2 separate regions of the Homo sapiens genome follow, and region 2 is linked to region 1. The links come from fine-mapping of genetic effects on gene expression. A gene starts in region 1. The other region holds a variant in brackets. All regions are shown on one strand. Distances are from middle to middle. Region 1 holds the start of CLDN11 (claudin 11). Region 2 overlaps SLC7A14 (solute carrier family 7 member 14).

Evidence for each region. PIP is the estimated chance that this variant, and not a neighbour inherited with it, causes the effect. A credible set is the group of variants that fine-mapping cannot tell apart.
Region 2: its variant is the best candidate, but not a certain one, in a credible set for the expression of CLDN11 in skeletal muscle (GTEx, PIP 0.71).

Annotation. Positions count from the first base shown.
Region 1 is chr3:170,412,304-170,422,790 of GRCh38, reverse strand. CLDN11 (claudin 11) reads right to left here and starts at 3,923. Exons shown (of 3, transcript NM_005602.6): 1 at 3,499-3,923. The coding sequence starts at 3,724. RefSeq lists an enhancer at 3,223-4,175.
Region 2 is chr3:170,527,356-170,537,842 of GRCh38, reverse strand. All of the region lies in intron 1 of SLC7A14 (solute carrier family 7 member 14), which reads left to right. The region is part of intron 2 of SLC7A14-AS1 (SLC7A14 antisense RNA 1); the gene reads right to left. Among named protein-coding and RNA genes, the nearest start is that of SLC7A14, 53 kb to the left of the region's middle. The variant T/C (reference allele first, on the strand shown) is at 5,630.

The DNA.
Region 1 (10,487 bases):
ACCTGTGTGACCTTGGGCAAGTTACTTAACCATGATGTCTTATTTTCCACATCTATAAAGTAACAACAGGCCAGGCATGGTGGCTCACACCTCTAATCCCAGCACTTTGGGAGGCCAAGGCAGGTGGATCTTCTGAGGTCAGGAGTTCAAGATCAGCCTGGCCAACAGGGCGAAACCCCATCTCTACTAAAAATACAAAAATTAGCCTGGTGTGGTGGTGTGAGCCTGTAGTCCCAGCTACTTGGGGAGGCTGAGGCAGCAGAATCGCTTGAACCTGAGAGGGGGAGGTTGCAGTGAGCTGAGATCGAGCCACTGCACTCCAGCCCAGGTGACAGAGCGAGACTCTTTCTCAAAATAAATAAATAAATAAACAAACAAAGTATTGATAATAATATAATAGTACCTACATCTCTGTAATAGAATTCTACTGAAGATTACATTAGTTAATTTATTTAGTGCTTAAAACAGTGCCTATACCAAATCCTCAAAAAAGGTTAGTTGTTATCATTGGTGTTCTTTGTCTGTCTCAGTGCAGCGCTTTCATCTTCAGGTGTCCTAGGTGATTTTCTCCTAACCATGTGCTTTCATTCACATTGGCTGTGGCCCTAACCCAGACTAAACTAAGACTCAGGCTTCCTCTCTTTGCTGTCTCCCCAGAGGCTGCTGTCCTCATGGATCCTGCCCCTAAATTGTTGGACCCCATCTCCTGCCTCACCCACAGTGCCCTGGGCATCCTTCCCCAACTGTCCATCATTGCTTAAAAGGCATCTCTCCAGCCCTCAGGGTTCCTGGAGGGCAGACACCTGCCTTGGTATTCACGGAGTTAACACAGTGCCCACAACAGATCATGGAAACAATTGCGAATCAAGGAATAAGAGAACTGAAAAATAGAAGAGTAGAGCAAAACTACATGAACTTTATCCTGTCAAGTAAAATGCCAAGTAAAAACTGTATTAAGAAACAGATTACAATATGTGTCACATTTATTTAGAATAAATCTGACAAGATACTGGGAGAATTTCACAGACAAATTTGTTTCACTTTCAAATGTAATGTTTCTCATTAAAACTCTCCCTCCTCTTAAAAAAGGTGGGGGGGGTCACATTTATTACCCTCCCTTTTTTGCTCAGAAGGAACTAGTACTAGTGGCCTGGGTGAGGCAGAGTTCATAGCAAAGCCAGGAATCTAGCCGACATCTGCCTCACACACCACGACCCTCACGTGCAAAAAGGCCTAACTTCAACGCTGTCTCTTAGCAAGGAACGTTTTGCCAGAATTCGGACTTCACAAGGGCCCTCTTCCAGCACTGCCCATCTCAGCTCCTTCAGAATTAAAGATAATCAGTCAAGTGTCTACTGACTTGAAGATCTCCAGAAAGGAGCTCCAGGAAGTCTGAGGCCCATCCCCTGACCCAGCCGTCCGCCTCTGCGGCTTGTAGAGAGCCAGTACTCACACAAAGCAGGCAGTCAACTGGCAATGCAGGTTCTGAAATCCATGGCACTGGCTGTCCACATGCTACAGTGCCAAGGCCATGTCCGGACACCAAAAGATAGGGACAGAGGACTGTTCCTGCCTCCACCCAAAGTATGAGGGAGGGGGAAGGCAGGAAGGACTAGCGCCGCCCCCCACCCCCCCCCCACCCCCAGAGTATGCACTCCCCTCTGGAGGACAGCCTTTGTTCTCTGAAAACAAACCACTTGGCACTGAATGCTCAGTAAAGTTAATTTCAGGAGAAGAAAACAAAGTTAATTTTATGCTTCAAAGATCCCTACAAATACCATGCCCAGCTTTTAATAAAATACTATAGGTACCATTCATGAAGCATCTACTATCTCAAAGGAGATTACATTTCTTATCTCATTTAATCCTCAAATAATCGTGAAAGATGGGTGGTTGATCTGATTTTAACTTTTAAAAGAAGACAACCGTGGTTCACTGAGGCTAGCAATTTGTCCCCCCTCACCCAGATTGTGAGTCCTGGATGCCGGAGGCTGGCCCGGGTCTGCCAACACCAGCATTAGCCAAAGCTGAGTCTAGATCTGCGTTCGTTGACCTCTGGCCTTCTGAAAGTTCAAAATGAAGGAAAGGATAGCGTAAGGCAAACCAGGCAAGCACTGCCCGCAGCTATTGTGTGCCAGAGGCCATGCCAGGTCCAGAAGAGGAAGCAAAGAGAATAACAGGACGCCATCTCTATCTTCAAGGAATTTAAAACGTAGTGGGAGAACTTCACTCACGAACAATCAACAAAAAACAAGATAAAATGTGCCTTTGTGAGGATAAGAGCCAAGTACTAGGCAGCAAGGAGAAAGGAGGGATTCAGATTCCGACTGCGAGGACCGGAAATAGGGCGTGCTTGGAGGAGGCTTAAGGGGCGAGCACAGTCTTATCTGACTGGCGGCTTCAGGGACAGGTTTCTCCCCATCTTGAGGAAACCGGGAAAATCCTTTAAGTGAGCACAATCCACGAAGGCTGGGGGACAGAAGCCCACCTTGTAGGGACATGCCTTGGGGGTAGAGCAGAGATTCCAGCAGAAAACCAAGGGGGTGCCCGCGACCTCGCCATTGCCCAACCCATTGGTTTAAATCTGAATTGAGGCTGTCGCCCAAAATGTTTCCACAGGACACATGTGAAAATGTGGCCCCTGGCCGGCGCTAGGCTGTCAATTTTTACCTCCCCTTCCCAATCTGAGACACGCTGGAGGGGTGGCGGCGAGCGACCCTCGGCGGCGCGCTCCGTATCTCCCCAGTGGAGTCCGCCCTCCGAGGAGCGCCCGCTCGTCCCTATCCAACCCAGCGGCGCGGAGCGGGAGCCGGCGTCACCGCAGCCCCGCAGTCTGACGCGCCCACAGCAGGGGCGGGGGTAGCGGGGGCAGCGGAGATGGCCCTGGGCACGTGCGGGAATCAACGTGACATTTCCCAAACCAGGCAGCCCAGAGAGCCCTGGACGTGAATTGCTCAGCGGCTGCGCGGACGGAGCTAGGAGGGCTCTAACCTGGCCGGGGGCGCTTCGCCCATCCCATGAGGACCGAGAAACTCAGCCTGAGCCGGTTCGATTCTCCTGTCAGCTTGTGTTACACGCTCCTTCTCACCTCTGCGGGCGGAACCTAACGCGAAGGCTCGGCGCCCCGGGGGAGGCCGGGCGGGAGCGGGAAGCACTTCGGGAAGCGGACGGTGGAAGGATGCGGGCTGGGACCGCAGTAATTAACACGGACTCAGTTCCTATTAGGTGTTCCGGTTTGTTCATTCTCAAAGGGACCCGGCCAGTGTTACCACCGGCCACATTGCCACTATTATCTCAAATTCCAGATAAGAATACTGCGGCCTAGAGAAGTTAAGTTCGGGGCTGCCTAATTCTTTTACAACAAGGTGGGACTAGGGATGTCAAAAACGTACCCAAAGGTCTTCAAGCCCCCAAAATGTCTCTGTGACGCCGTCTAATATCCCGCTCTCTACCCAGAGGATAAGGATTTGGGAGCCGCCGCCAAGCTCGGGTCCTTACCCGGCAGGATGAGGATGTCCACCAGGGGCTTGCAGTGGTACAGCCCCGTGGCCATGACGCAGTCGGCCCACAGCCCCTTGGAGCCCAGCTCATCCAGCTTGCGGCAGGTGGGGATGGTGTAGCCGCAGGTCACCACCCAGTCATTGGTGGAGGTGGTCACGATGACCCCGATCCAGCCCACGAAGCTCGTGACGAAGCCCACCACCTGCAGGCACGTGGCCACCATGGTGGCCGCCAGGATGTCCCCGTGCCTCGCCCCTCACGGCTGTGCCTGGGCCTGGGCTGGACAGTGCCTGCCCAGGTACGTCTCCCACGCTCGCGAGCCGCTGGAGGGCGACGGCCCGAGGCGGGACACTGGAGGTGGAGGTGGGCGCCGGAGGCTGCGAGCTCAGCGGCGAAGGGCGCACGGCGGGGACAGCAGCGCTGCTGGGCAGCGCGCCCCCGCCCCCTCTTTAAGCCCCGCGGCTCCGGCCGGCGAGCACCAATCGGCGGCAGCCCCGGGGCGCGCCGGCCAATCGCGGGGCGGGGCCGGGAGGGAAGCGTGAAGGGGAGCAGAGTAACCCCAGGGGGGCCATTGGGCCGCCCCACCCCGTCCGCAGCGCAGTCCGGCGATGCAAAGTAAAACAATTCCATCCAGGTCCAGAGAAACGGAGAGCGCAAAGAGGGCGTGCGTTTGTCGAGAGTTCTGTTTTCCTGCGACTGGTTTCTCTTCTTATAGCCCCTCTCTCATCTCAGTCTCTGGGTGTCCATTCCGCTCCGACCCTCCTCAGCTCCTCCCTGCTCGCTCCTTCTTCCCTGCTGCGAGCACTCCAAGGGCGCTCGGTACAGTCCCCCGACGACCCAGGATTGTGACAGACTGAAAAGTGCAGTAGGGACAAACGCGAGGCATTCAGTACACACAGTTACTAGAAGAAAGAAAACGATGCTTTTCAGTGGTTGAACATCATCAGCGGCAAACGTGGCCATAATAATCAACAATAGCAACTCACATTTATCGAGCTGTGTTATATATTATGCAGATGCATTTTACATGCATTAGCTCATTTAATCCTCATAACAGCCTTTGAGGTAGGAACAATTGTCAATGACACATACTAGGCCGGGAGTGGTGGCTCACACCTGTAATCCCAGAACTTTGGGAGGCCAAGGTGGGCGGATCACCTAAGGTCAGGAGTTCGAGACCAGCCTGACCAACATGGTGAAACTCCATCTCTACAGAAAATACAAAAATGAGCCGGGCATGGTGGCGCATGCCTGTAACCCCAGCTGCTTGGGAGGCTGAGGCAGGAGAATAACTTGAAGGAGGTTGCAGTGCGCCAAGATCGTGCCACTGCACTCCAGCCTGGGCAACTGAGTGAGACAACGTCTCAAAAGCAAACAACAACAACAACAACAAATTACACGCACTAGCCATAGAGAAACAGCACAAGAAGGTTGAGTTGCCCAAGTTCACGCAGCTAGGAAGGGGTAGATACCATGGGCCCATCTCATCCCTTTCACGAACTGTTTCTAGGAAACTGTCCTGATCAGTCTGAAAATTCCTAAGGGGTTCATGTGTCCCATTTTAGACGCATTAAAAGCTACAGCAGACTTCTCTGGCTCACTGTAAATAAATTAATATCTGTACCCCACTGAGAAAACTGCCTAGCCCAGAATGAGCGCTCTGATAGTGTAAAGCTATCATCATCACCATCAACATCATTAAGCCACCATGCATACAAATAGGCCGCATTATTTGCACCTTTTTATTCAGATAGGGAAGTCTTCCTTGAGCTGCATTTACATTCAACAGTTTTCACTCCCTTTGAAACATTTGGCTTATCTTATTATCTCCTTCTATCCATTCCCTTGGACCACTGCCTCCTCACCAATCATGAGACTTAAAGGTGTGAGGATTTCAGAAAGCACAAAAACTTCCTGCTCAGCGTTCTAAAATCTAAGATACTAACCATAAATCATAGGTACTGAGCTTTCCCAAAGCCAGCCCTAATGCTGGTTATCAGTGCAATCACCATGTCTTCTAGGAAAGCCTGGACTTGAGGAGACAATTACATTTCCCTGGAGACCCCAAGGAAATCAAGTGCACACACAGAAATGGCTCTTGTAATTGATAGCAGAGTGTCAAGTACAAGGGTCACAGTAATCACCCAGGAAGCACAGTGACTAAGAACACAGTCCAACTGCCCAAGTTCAAATCTTGGCTCCATCACTTTCTGGCTGTGAGACCAAGTTACTTTATCATTCTTGGCCTCCTTTTCTCATTTGTAAAATAAGGATGAAAACTGTACCTACCTCATAGACTTTTTTTTTTATTCTGTGAGCTATTAGGTTGGTGCAAAGTATTAAACATAACGGCAAAAACCACGATTACTTTTATACCAACCTAGTAATATATATGCAGAACTTAAAGTAACATTGGTACAAAGTAAGTATTCAGAAACCCCTGGCTAATGTGATGCTTCAGAACGTTGTTGTTGTTGTTGCCGTTGTTGTTGTTTTGAGACAAGATCTGTGTCACCCTGTCTACAGTTCAGTGGCGTGATCACAGCTCATTGTAGCCTTGAACCCCGGGACTCAAGTGATCCTCCCACCTCAGCCTCCTGAGTAGCTAGGACTACAGGCATGAGTCACTATGCCCAGCTAATCTTTCTTATTATTAGTAGAGAGAAGGTCTCACTATGTTGCCCAAGCTGGTCTTGAACTCCTGCGCTCAAGCAATTCACCTGCCTTGGCCTCCCAAAGTGCTGGGATTATAATAGGCATGAGCCAGCAGGCTTGGCCTGATTTTGCATTCTTATGTATCCTCCCTATATTCGTATGAGTTTGATTTGTGGAAACTATTCCATAGGAGTATGTTCTGAGTGAGCCATTGTGTTTGGGGGACGTTTCATCACCAGGGTCTATGGACTGAATGTTTTCAGATATTTCCTTATAACACTTTTTTAAAATGGCTTTTGTGCTAAATACAACATAAAACATAAAACCCAAGCAACATCAACTTCTTGTAAAAGCACTCATGGAATCTGCACTCTTATGCCTCCATTAGAATTTGACATTCGAACCATGAAACTTCAACCAATCAGAATATAATAATGCCCAGATCATCCACAGGTCACACACACATAGTGTTTGTAAAGCCAGATTTCAGAACTCAGGCACTAAATGGTAAAAAAAAAAAAAAAAAAAAAAAAAAATTGCCAAGTTGTTAAGATTGCTGTCTTGGACTGGGACCTCCTAGGTTCACATTCTGTCTTCACCACTTGAGCTGGCCCTTCACCTACGTGACTCTCAGGTTCTTCATGTACAAAGTGAGATAGTAAATGCCCCCTTAGGGCATGGTGAGGATCAAGTGAGATAATTTATATGAAGTACTCAGCATAGTGCCCAGCACTGCTGGACACTCATTCACATTAGACACTGTTAGAATGATTTATAGGAAGCGTAGATTAATTGGAAGTGGGAGTTCCCTTTGGTAGAGATACAAGCTAAATAATTAGGGTATTATTATTATCCAATGAAAGCAATTGTAAAGCCAGTGTCTAATCCATTCCAGCATAGATGTACAAAAGGCCACTTGAGGAGGCCACAAGATGTAACCTGTTTGAATTCATTAGCCCAAGGTAAAGAGAGGGCTTGTCCCTTCAAAAGGAAGGCAGGAAGCCATGGAAGCAAAGAGAACTGGGGGCCAAGAGGCAGAGAGACGCAATGGGAATCCTTGACTATTTTCAGAGTCTGTGGCTCACAGACTCTGAGGATGCGGTGCCATTAGCAAGGCTCTGTAGGGTGGGGAAGTCCCTCAAGCTATCTTAGCTGAGACTTTTGCTAAAATCATCCACATTGCGGCCAGGCACAGTGGCTCACCCCTGTAATCCCATCACTTTGGGAGACCAAGGCGGGTGGATAACGAGGTCAGGAGTTCGAGACCAGTCTGGCCAACATGGTGAAACCCCGTCTCGGGGTTTCAAAATTATACAAAAATTAGCTGGGCGTGGTGGCAGGTGCCTGTAATCCCAGCTACTCAAGAGGCTGAGGCAGGAGAATCTCTTGAACCTGGGAGGCGGAGGTTGCAGTGAGCCGAGATCGTGCCATTGCACTCCAGCCTGGGTGACAAGAGCAAGACTCCATATCAAATATATATATATATATATATATACAAAATTAGCCAGGCATGGTGGCACATGCCTGTAATCCCAGCTACTCAGGAGGCTGAGGCAGGAGAATCGCTTGAACCCGGGAGGCGGAGGTTGCAGTGAGCCGAGATCATGCCATTGCACTCCAGCCTGGGCAACAAGAGCAAACTCTGTCTCAAAAAAAAAAAAAATATCATCCACATTGCTTGGCTGTGGCTCTCCTCCCAAACCCTCTTTGTGATTAAGACCTGACTTCCCATGCAGCACAACTTACTAAACTGATATTCTGGGTCTGTCACAGTCTCAGGTACCCTTTAGTTGTAAGAGTCAGTCTCTCAAGGTCTAATCACCCTCAGATAAACGTCAATCGTTGGTCCCCAGACCATCCAGACAAAGGTCTTCTCAGTTAATTTTTTCTCAGCAAACTCTGCCATGCCATCTTTTCACATTTCCACAGTACATATCAGAACTAGGAAGGTAGAGCTGAGACCTGATTTCAGGTCTTCTAACCCTAAGTCCAATGTTTTTTTCCATTATAAAAAAAAATATAAGATGAGTCATATGCTCTGTGGCTTGAGCGTAAGTTCGTTCCTTCATCTTACTCTTATTCAAAGGTATTTGAAGGGGAGGATTAGGGGATTAGGGCCAGTAAGGCCCTAAAACCCAGATGTGAACTAAACAAAGGAAAAGGCCTGGTTAACTGTTCTTCTACCATTTACACCCAAAAATAGTCAATCAAACTAAAATGCTATTCAGATACAGCACGAATGCATACCACAAAGCAGATGTGACTGCTGGCAAGCATCAAAACCCCACATTGAGAGCAAAGTTTGGGCCAACGAGTAGGCTCTTAGCGCCTGCTAGTGGTTATCTTTTATCATTGCATGGCTGGTAAAAAACTGAAGGGAGCTGTAACTTGTAGAGAAACATGATTAACCTCAGCTTTGCACATTCCAAATGAGGGATAATTAAACCCAACTGGAATGTGCATTTCTCTGTGGAAGTTTTCTTCATATATTTTAAAAAGATGATTCACCTCTTTAGAAAACCAAACATGAAAACACAGGACATATATGAAATTACTTAAGCAAGATTACTCAATTAAAAAATCAAGTACTTCTACTAGGCCCTTATTTACTTATTTATTTATTTTGTTAGAGACAGAGTCTTGCTGTCCCCCTGGAGGCTGAAGTGTGGCGGCACAAACATAGCTCACTGTAACCTCGAACTCTGGGCCCAAGTGATTCTCCCACCTCAGCCTCCTGAATAGCTAGGACTATAGGTGCACACCACCACACCTGGCTAATTTTTTTATTGTTGTATTTTTTATAGAGATGGGGGAGGGGTCTCTGTATTGCCCAGGCTGGTCTCAAACTCTTGGCCTCAAAAGATACCCCCATCTCAGCTCCCCATCACATCCGGCCTGGGGACCTCTTTTTAAGGGATAAATTCCTCTGGTGGATTTTAAATATTTGATGATACACACATACACACATTTTTAGAAATACTGTAGAACAAATTCATAGCATAAAAAGAATATCAAACATAGGCTTTAAAAATGAAATGACCTGTAAGTTTCAGGATTTTGTCTATTTTGTTCATCACCGAAACTGTTGAATGTGGCACAGTACGTGGCATACACAAAGGCACTCAATACATACCTGTTGAATGGAGCTGACTGAAGGGTTGAAAGGGAGAGATTGAATTTGCAAGCCTACAAGTTCCACTAGGATGAGAACCTGAAGACACCATGCAGAAGAAATCAGGAGGTGGTGATTGGAGCTGGTCTAGGGAGTGGGCAAGAGGCAGAGTACAGCTCTTTGTGGTCTCGGGTACCCACCTGCCGCCCACAGGAAAGTGAAGCCTTCAGCAGTAGAAGGGATGTGTACTGCTCAGGTCTCAAACAGAAAAGTCTCTAATTACCTAGACACGCTGGCCTCAATGCATATACTTCCAGCAGAGAAGAGTGGCACCTTCACAATTCACTTCCACCTGGAGATTCAAATTCAGCTACGAGAGGGGAAAAAATTCCTTTTCAGGAAATTTCTCCAACAATCACTGTGGAAAACACACCAGGTTCTCTAGAACAGACAACAGGGCTCCAGGTGCTCCCCCATATCTTGCCCTTTCTTCACAGTGCAACTAGAATATCATTCCTTCAGAAGCCATTTCATCCCAAATTTCCCTTCCTTCAGCTTGTAGATAGAGTAAAATAATGAAAAACTTGTACCTGGAGTTTTAGGCTTGAATCCTCTCAGAGTGTTTTCTCTCTTCAAGTAGCAATTCTATTCATCCACTTCTCTGCCAAGAGTCTCAGACTGCATTAAATGATATCCTGTCTAATTCAACCTATGAGATCATAGTTCCTGAAGAAGAGCAAAAGTCCTTATTTTTAGCCCAAATTCAACTAGCGATTACATTTTCAGAAAACATAGTAGTAATAGAGTATATAAGTGCTGAAGTGAAAAATAAGGAAATAATCTAACTAAAAAGCCACATCTTTAAATTCTCTATCTTAATAATTAAGGGGCAGGGCACGGTGGCTCACGCCTGTAATCCTAGCACTTTGGGAGGCCAAGGCAGGCAGGTCACCTGAGGTCAGGAGTTCGAGACCAGCCTGGCCAACATGGTGAAACCCTGTCTCTACTAAAAATACAAAAAATAGCTCAGTGTGATGGTGGGTGCCTGTAATCCCAGCTACTTGGGAGGCTGAGGCACCAGAATCATTTGAATCCAGGAGGCAGAGGTTGCAGTGAGCTAAGATCACGCCACTGCACTCCACCCTGGGCAACAGAGTGAGACTCTGGCTCCCAATAATAATAATAATAATAAAGAACAGGTGTTTGTCGGCCAGGCGCA
Region 2 (10,487 bases), 120 kb before region 1:
CATTCACCTTTTTAAATACGGAGCAGTACGGAAAGCACTGGCTTGGAGGTCAGGACACCTGCCATCACTTGGGTGTGGCCTCAAATAAACCACTTCAGCGCTCAGGCTCTGAAGCTGCTCCTCTGAAAGCAGCTGAGTAAATGACTCTACCATGAGTATTCTTGACAGACAATAGGTACATGTAGTTCTGGTTAAGTTTTTGTTTAATTAGGGACAGAATTTTTCCAAAAGCATATAAATGCTCAGCCGAGTGTTTTCAGGAAAAGAGAGATGAGAGAGGTGGCAGTTTGCCATAGAGTACAGAAATACGAAGAGAGACATGTCTAAGATAAGAGTGGTTCTTAGAAGATGGAATAATGTTCCCCAGAGATGTCCATGTTCTAATCTTCAGAATTTGTGACTATGACAAAGGGGACTCTGCAGAGGTGATTAAGTTAAGAATCTTGAGATGAGGAGATTATCCTGGATTAGAGAATAGATTTGATATAATTACAAGGATCCTTAGAACAGGGGAGCAGGGGATCAGAGAGGAGAGAAGATACTATGTTGCTGGTTTTGAAGAAGGAAAGAATCACAAGTCAAGGAATGCAGGTGACCTCTAAATTCTAGAGGCTGGAAAAGGCAAGGAAATAGACTGTCCCTGGAACTTCCGGAAGGTACACAGCCCTGCAGACTCAGAGCTGTAAAATATCAAATCTGTCATTTTTGGCCACTACATTTGTAGCCATTTGTTACAGCAGCCAGAGGGACCTAATACAAGAGGGAATTGTGTGAGATATGTGATAGCATTTCTCTATTTTGCCAGAAAGGCTTCCATTTCCTTCAGTATCTTAGGAGTCCAGTTAGTGTTCTGTCTTGAGTGTAAGGACATGCTGAGATGGGCATCCAGCCAGAGTGGGTGCAGATTGTCTTCTGGGGGCTCAGATTACACATGGCATGAAGGTGCCAGGCTGGATGATCTCAAATACAAATATTTTATGATCTCATCATTTCAGAATGGCCTCTACAATCACATTTGGGATGAGGAGACCAGAATTTTTGTGCAAAAAGCCACCTTATGCATCTCTCATGAGTACACTTTGCAACTATAGTGTTGCATTAAAAAGTCCCTATCAACATTTTCTAAATGAGAAAATAGAAACCTTAGCAAGCTGTGGCTTACTCAAGTCTCACCCATAGCTTGTCCTACGGGACTGGGACAAAACCTCCGGTCTCCTGATTCATGAGTACAGAGTATTCACTCTATATTCATGGTATGATAGTGTGCTCTCACTTTTCAGTGTTAATTTTGGAAATCTGCATGTATTTAGAAATGACCTATGGGCCCATCAGACTTCCCAATAACTTTTGTATGCAGTTAAACTCCAAGTAACTGGAAGGTTTGGGAAATATGTTCTAACTAATTAACTTTTCTGGCTAATCAAATATGAACCAGAAAAAATATTGCTATATCAGTCTTCCATTCAAAGTTTTTCTAAACTTTTATGGTTCACTCTTCTTCTTTGGCAAGCAAAGCATTGCAAACAGCTTATGATCTACTTCTGCTAATTACCAAGTCTCTTACGGTCTCTTAGCTATATTTGGGGCATTGGTCACATTTTCAATACCTACACTTATAGGTTGCTTTGTGGTTTCCAAACTGCATCCACAAGCATCATCTCATTAAATCCTCATGACAGGTTTACAAGGTAACTATTATTTCTCCTGTATTTCAGATAATAAAACTGACGCTCAGGGATTTTAAGATACAAACCCAAGGTCACACAGCAGAGTCAAAGCCCAGACCTCACTGTTCAGACTTCAAACCCAGTATCTCTGTAGACACAGCGGGTATTGTTGATTTCCTGAATCTATCTCAGCCGTCTAATATACCCATGTATCAGTCAGGATCCCAGCAGGAAGCACGTGGCACACTCAAGCCTGGTATTTTGAGGAAAGTTAGTGAAAAGAACTGTTAATATATATAAAGATGAGGGCAGTGGGCAGAGAAATCATGAGGCAAAATGCAGTTCCAAGGGCTAGAAACATGAGTACTACCCACTGCCTGAAATGACAGGGGGGATAAAGAAAGAATTATCAGAACCAGAGAGAGTTAGGGCTATGTGGAGAGGGCCACCTGGCTGGAGCCACAGCCAACCCACAGTGACCTGGCAAAGGGAAGCTAGGGATAAACACCTGGCCTGCCTCTCTTCCATCCTCCTGATCACCTGCTGGTGCCTCCCATTGACCAATCCAACCAGAGGGCAAGGGAGCATGTCAGCTCCCCAGGACACAGCCAGTGGGCTGCTGGGTGGATCTGGAAGGACAAGCAAAGGACACTCGCACTCCCTGAAGCTGCCTTGTGCCTAAATTCCTGATATTCTGTAGATTACAATAATTTATTTTATGGCCATAACAGCTACCATTGAACTAAACACACACCGGGAACTCATTAAATACTTTTGCAATGATTAATACAAATTCTTAAATCTTTTATGGTGGCATAGAAGGATTAACTGGTTTTTGGTATTATTTGTCCCTTCTAACAGAGAGGTTTCCCAGTAATATCTGATTAATGAAGAGTTTTTCATTTCCTGAACTCTGGTTTTGTTAATATTATCTTATATACAATGAATAACACATGACACCAAGCAGAGACCTGAGACCCTAACCTGGGAGACCCTGATCTGCGGGAGAAGAGTGGAAGGTGATGCCAGACTGTGGCCACACATGCAAGGACACCTAGCCCCAAGCAAAGACCTGAGGCACCGGACCTGAGGTCCATGGAAAAGGAGAGGAGAAGGTGATGTCAAACTGTGATACCCTCCCTGACTGGGGCATCGAAGGAGAAACGTGGTGTCTCAACGCTCAGTAACCAATCTCTGAACAAGCCTATCCTTCCTTCTCCAAGTAGATGCTCTTGAGAGTGTTTTCACCACAGTTTCCAACAAATATATACACAGAGAGTATTCGCAACTCTGGAGTGTTGACAAACAGGGGAGCAGAATGGGAAACTATTTGTGTCAGTAGAAATATTGTCCCAGACCAGGTAAAAATCAATTGTTTTCATAAGTTTTTTTTAAAGAATTATTTCAAGCAAACAAAATTAAACAGGTTTCTCTTTATTTTGTTCTGCCTGGTGTTGGAAGCAGATGAATTTTTAATTTACCTATTTACAGGCAATCATTATTTATATCTTTAAAGAATTAATTGTGGAAATGCAGGAATGAACACATCAGAGTCTTAAGTTTCTTCCTCAGATGTACAGATATCTGCCCATTTCAGAGAAAACAGCCTCAGAAGAAAAATATAATTGCTTTGCCTAGTGCATAGTAAGGGATCAGTGACATATCATCAAAACTGTTTACATCCTCCTTCATAAGAAAAGTGCACAACTTCGCCCTGTGCCATGTGACTCACCTGCCTTCAATGGGAGGAGGACACTTCTCACCCCACTAACTTTGGGCTTGGTCATATGACTTACTTTAGTTAATGGAAAGTCAGTGGAACTGCCAGTTCCCAGCACAAGCAGTAGAGACATTTTACATTTCCACCAGTTGTGCCACGAAAGAGCAGCATGCATCAGATAGGGATTGCTCCTTCAGCCTGAATCCTGGAATAAGAAGGCGTGTGGAGTAGACTCCCAGTCCAGATTGGGGAAAAGATCTGAAGCCGATCCACTGTCTGGAGTACAGCCACAGCAAGAGACAAACATCACCATTGTAATATTCAAATTTGGGGTTGTTTGTTACTACAGCAAAAGCTGATTAATATACTCAATAACTTTTTAGAAACAAACAAACAAAAAAAACCAACAAGCTTTGAAAAGGAAGCTTAATTGGTGCAATCTTATTTGCATAGCTAAAATATGCAGTCATTATAGATTCATAGTCCCCTTTAAAGATATTCCAAGTAAAACGAAGTTGGCTGTGTCTGAGACTCCACATACAATATAAACAGGCTAGCACATCATTAAATAATATGGTAGGTAATCAAAAAATATTTGAAGTGGGTTTGATCAAACACTCAGCAAAGATACAACTGAAAAAATTAGCCATCTGAAAATCAGGAACCCTGGTTTTAAAGCCAATCGTACATCTAAGTGAATTTGTCAGGCACCAACACTGCATGATTTAAGAGGCACGTGCTTGTGCACACATGTGTGTGCGTGCACACACACACACCACACACACACACACACACACACACACACTGGGCCAGATGGATCAAAAACATCTCCCTTACCACTCTGTCATGGTCCAAAAGTGTCAACCATGATAAGCTGCAGCCTATTCAAGAAGTACAAATCAGAATGTGGTTGATCTAGAAGCTATAACATGTGAGGCACTGTTGATCGCAGAAGAAATTGAAGATGTTTAGTCTAGGAAAGATAAGACTCCAAGATATATGTTAGTTGCTATCAAAAACTTGAAGACTTATCCCATAAGCAGATTAACTCTAATCTGTATAGATACAGAGAGCAAAACTGCAGACAACAGAAGAGAGTTACTGGGACACACATCACAGTTCAGTTTACCAGGATATTCTGTCAGAGCTGAGCAGACCCTGAGATTAAGACGCATCTGGCCTGTACCTGGCCACGTAGTATAAAGTCAGAGTGGCTGACATGCAAGCACATCCCCAGTTATGGTGCAAACATAAAGCCGTATCTGGTGAGCTTGGAAGGAGTAGAAGAGCAAGGACTTCAGGAGAGGATCCACCATCAAAGCTTATGCTAGCTGAGTGAGCCAGAGTAAGCCACAGGCATAAAAGTCAGAAGGGGATCATGTTTTCAGGGATGGGGTGGCAACTGAAGGTGAACCTACCATGGTCTAGCCATCCCAAAGGTATGTGTGCATCTTGGGGAAAAAAGTCAAAAGTATAGAAGAATGAGAGGAGGCATAACACCCAAAGGCCTAAGCAAATCTGCTGAAGGCCCCTTTAGATAAAGGAAAACAGGAAAGAGGAAAGCCGTTCTCCACAAGTTTGAGAAAGGTAAATAAGAATCCCTTGGAGTGGAAGTACCAGGTGCACAGGCTGCAGCCAGGAGAAACCCAGGGGAGGTTCAACAGAAAAAAGCCCTGATTAAGGACTTGGCATCAGGCCAAGGGCCCTCTGAGAGCTGCCTAAGGAGGTGAAGGTGGTGGGAAGGGTGTCAGTAGCAGGGAACAACAACAACAAAAAAAAAAAAACACCTGGTCAGGGGCCACAGCAGGGTGATGCTAGCTAACGCTCCCACAGCATGCACTATACGCCAGGCGCGGTACTAAAAGCTCTACACGTATTAGCTCTTCCACTCCTCACCACAACCCTGTGAGCTAGGTACCACTGTGATCCCATTTTACAAATGGCAAAACTGACGCATAGTGAGGTTTGCCCAAGGTCACTTAGTTAGTAAAGGCAGAGGCAGAATTTGCATGCAGGGCACCTGGTTCCTGAATTGTGTTCTTAACCCAGAGCCAGGAGCTCAGCCCAGAGGAAGAAAAGCAGGGAGGTGGTGAGAGGGTTAGCCAAGACCTGGATGCGGGAGTGGGCAGAGACCTCAGAAGGGTCCTCAGATCCCACAGTCACCAGGTGGGGCTCAGAAAACCAGGCAACGTTTACTCTAACTGCAGCCTCATTTTTCCTGGGGACATCAATTAAAAGAATC[T/C]TGTAGCAATCCTAACTGTCCCACCACGTGAAAGGGCTGCTTCTATCAGCCAATGTTCCCTGCGGCCCAGATGTTCCAGAAAAAGCTGGACAACTACTCATCGAGTGTGTCATGAGGGATTTTTGTAGTCCCTTAGCATATTTGCAAAATCAGGCAGGAATGATTACTGGCTGTTTACTGTTTTGTTAGCCTTCGTTTCCTTCCTCTCCTCACCTCCAAAGGCAGTCTCTAGCCTAATTCGATAATCCTACTCATTCAGTGAACTACTCAACTGTAATTATTTGCATCCTGAAACAAACCTGCTTTTATCATCATTATCCTTGGAGCCCACTGAACCCTCGAGCATGCCAGCAAGCACCACAATGATGACTCTCTTCTCCCAGAGGCCCTGTAAGCCTTCCTTAGTTATAGCTGTGAAGTATTTTGAGAAACCTGAATTAAAGTGCTAGAGAAAGCACAACACACATTTATTGCTCATCTTGGAAAGACAACAGCAATGAGCTTCCAAAACTATATTTGATTAACATAATCTGGGGGTAATGAATATGGATATTGCCAATAGTCACCTAGAAGCATGTTTTCTTTTGTACATTTTGTTCTCTCCAGTACATTTCCTACCAAGAAAGGAAATGGTCCCAACTCCCTGTTTGCATCAATAAAGCAAGCACTCAGGGGAATTGCGTGAAGAGAATAGGACCAGGGGGCATTCTTGCCACCCTCAACCTTTGCTTTTGGTTGATTCTCCACATTTTCAATACGGTTTCTAATTACCAGGAATACGAAGTGCAAATAGAAGCCATCACTTTCATAAAAAGGCTGGTTTGTTTCTCGGTGTCCTTGTGACAGTTTCTGATGAAGGCTGAACAGGACAAGTAGCCCAGGAGATATCTCCAGACAGTGCCGCCTCCATAGTCATTGCCTGCCGAGGAGAGCTGTTAAGAGGCCCCATGACCTGCCCAGGGAAGGAAACCGGAAGTACCTGTCAGAGTAGTGGCCTCCTGTGGAAAACAGCAATATCTGGTTTTCCACACGGAGCATTTGTCATTATGCCTGGCATGGGGCAGGGAACCTCAATTCTGCTGTGCTAGCATAAGCTGGGGCATTTAAAGAACCCCTGTATATAGGCCATACTTCAGGCAAATTACATTAGAATTTTGGGGATGGGGCACAGGCACCAGCATTTCTGAAAGATCCTTGGGTATTTCCAACGTGCAACCAAGATGGAGAGCCACTGCCAAGGGTCTCAAGATGGGAAACCATTCACCACCCCTCAAAAGCGGGCATGAAGCCCACCTGCATTTACCACAGCCACAACCTGCCGCAGGGCCTCTCTCCTCGATTCCAGCAGCGCACAGCTTGTGAGGTTCTCCTGGAGCCGGCTGACAATTTTTCTCCCTCCTGCATAGTGTCCTGTGTACAGGCACTGCCCTGGCTGCAGAGTCCCACTGGCTTATAGATCTCTGCTTACTTGTCGGCCTCCCCGCTGCAGCAGGTCCACACCCCTCGCCTTTTTACATCCATCCCGGGCTGCCTTAAAGGATCCCAGGGCCCAAGATTCTGCCGCAGCTACAATGAGCTTTTAGAAAGTAAGTCATCTCATATTGCTCACCTGAATAAAAGCCTCCAAGGGCTTCTCACTGCACTAAATATCCAAATCACATCCCTGTTATCTTGGCTGACCAGCCCCCTGGCAGTCTGACCTCTGCGCATCTTAAGCAAGAGAGCCCCACGGAGCCCAGGGCCAAGCTCTGGCTCTGGTGACTTTGGGTAAGTGACTGCCCTTCTCCCGGCCTACTTTGCCTCATCTGTAAAGGGAGATATGTTGTGAGGATTTAATTAGTCAACACGACACTCAAATCCTCCTCCTTACCCCATACCAGTCTCACTTAGATCCCAGCAGATGCAACACCCGCTCTATCCTCTTGAACCACAATGTGAGGAGCATTTCCCTGACATCTGGTACAACTGGCTTCTTTGCACCACTCAGGAGCCAATGCCATGTCCACAGAGACCTTCCCACCCCTTTATCACCCCCATTTTATTTCCTCTAAGCCTGTACTAGTTTGCTAGGGCTGCCATAACAAAGTATTGTGTTGGTGCAAAAGTAATTGCGGTTTTTGCAATTTGTGCTTTACTGCAATTACTTTTGTGCCAACCTAATACCACGGTCCATGTGGCTTAAGCAATAGAAATGTATTGTCTCACCATTCTGGAGTCTAGAAATCCAAGACTAAGGTGTCAGCAGGGTTGGCTTCTTAGAGCTATGAGGAAGAATCCGTTCCCTGCCTCTTTTCTAGCTTCTGGTGTTTTCGTGGCAATCTGAGGCATCCCTTTGCTTGTAGAGGCATAACCCCCATGTCTGTTCTCCCTGTGTGTGTGACTTTGTTTACAAATTTCCCCTTTTTATAAGGACATCAGTCATATGGACTAAGGGCCCATTCTACTTTGGTATGACCTCCCCCCAACTAATTTCATCTATAATGATATTATTTCCATATACAGTCACATTCTGAGGTGTGGTGGCTAGGACTCCAACATTCTAATTTGGGGGGGCCATGATTCAGCCCATAACACAGTCTGTATCCCTCTCTGAAACTGACTGATTTTATCTGTCAGCCTGTGTATTGCCTCCTCCCTCTTCACCAAACGTCAGCACCATGACAGCAGGACTTTGAATGTCTCATTTGCCACAGCAACTGCTACCTAAGGCTGGGCTGACACAGAGAAGATGCTTTGTATAGTTTCTTGAACGGATGAATTAAAACTAAAGCAACAGGCCAATTTTCTGAATAAAAACACTGAAGCCACAATAGTGAAGCTACTACTCAGTTATTAAAAATGATGTTTCCATAACTATTGATGTGGGAAAACATTCTAACATATTGTTAAGCAAAACAAGAAAGTTTCAAATCAGAATAAATGATATAACATTTATAAAACACACACACATATATATATGTCCATTCAAATAGGTGTGTAGTTACATAGAAAAGGGTCTGAAAGAATATAAATCAAGTTGTAGCTAGCTGGGTGGTATCTTATTTACTCATGTGGTTCTTTGTTGTTTATATTGTCTGACTTTTCTGCAATAGATATGCGATGTTTGTGTAAAAAGAGAAATAATAAAGGCCAAGCTTTTCAGGGAAAAACAAAAATAAACCCTCTCACTTGCAGTGTGATTTGGCGTCCACTATCTCTCATCCCAGGCTGCAAGCTCCATGGGAGCAGGGACTATGTCTTTGCATCTACAAGCCTCACGCCATGCTTGGCACATAACAGGTGTTCCTTATATGCTGGCTGAGTGGAAATAAATAGACACGTGGATTCATGTCCCCACAAGACCTCAACCAAAGCAGTTGTTCTAGCGGCCTTCTCGGTAAACATATGGTATATTTTCTTGCCAATACGAAAATCTTTAGAAGAAGAAAGAGGAGAGGAGGAAGGGGACGTGGAAGGGAGGAATGCAGACACTCTAGCCTGTTAAATATCTCTGGCGTGTTATCCAACTATAGTGATATCTAAGGTGTTGTCAAGAATAAAAACACAGCACGAAGCCACACTGTCAAAGCTAGGAAAAAATTAAACCAGAAAGGCTGTCACCCAAACCTGTGAACCAAACAGCCACATTTCACCTGATTCTTCTAATTAGCGTTTGAAAAGCCTTTAGAAGCAGACAAGTGCTACATTAAGTGCTTAGTATTCATTAATACTATGAGTAGATGAGGTAGGCAGGTACTTACTGATTATATAAATGTCCTGAGCTTGTCAGTACAGTATTTGGAATCAACGTCTGGCTATACTTCAAAAATTCTATACATTTATGAGTTTTATAAATTTTATACAGTTTTTATAAATTTTCTCCAGCTTCCGGCTTCCAAAGAATGTAGCTTCATATATTTGCAGTTCCTAATTTACTAAACTTTAGAAATTACCTAACACTGTAGTTCTTAATTCTATCAGATCCAACACCCCTTTTTATAATAAATACTTTGTCATACCTCCTTTTAGTATCCTGAAGTGAAATTATTGATCATCTACCTATATACAACATATTTCAGTGTGTAAATACCCAGGCATATCCAAATGACGGTGTCAAATGCTTGCACTATGTGAAAAATCACCGCAAACGTGCCAGTTCCAGATGGCAGGCTGTTCCAGGGTGCAGCATGAGAAATGCAATACCACGGGTGGCATTCCCATGGGGTCCTTGGTTTTCTGAAAGGGCAAACAACTCCTCTTAAGTTCCAAACTAAATACATTATAATCTTCCTTTGATTTATTCTATAGTTGTATTCCTGGAAAATTCAATTTACTTGTATATTAAGGCTATCCAAAATATCCTATGAGTTTATATGTAAAAGAGAGTGAGTTGACAGGCTCAGATCATCATCACCAGGATTTTTATCTACAGGAAAGTCAAGCAAAATATCTAAAAGTTGTGTGACAACATCCTACACAACTCACATCTCAGGTTCCCCCCAGATGCCAGGAGTACTCCCCACCATTCCAATGTTTGAGAGTAAAAAAAATTCCCAAAACATTTTTTATTTCATTTGGGAGCCAAGTGCCAAAATAACCCATGGGGTGGCATGGCCCCTCTTAAGACTCATGGATCTAATTTTACATTTTTATGTTAAAAAACATGTAGATATCATGTCCCCTCAAAATATGCCCAAGAATCACAGACCAAGTATTGGCAAAGTAAGAGGTAGTTAGAGTTGAGATGGATGAGCACTTTCCATACGCCAGGCATTTTCTTAAGCTCCTTATGGACGTCACTCATCTAATCTTCACATCAACACTAGGAGAGAGACTTTATTGTCCCATTGGACAGCTGAGACTGAAACACAGACATGGC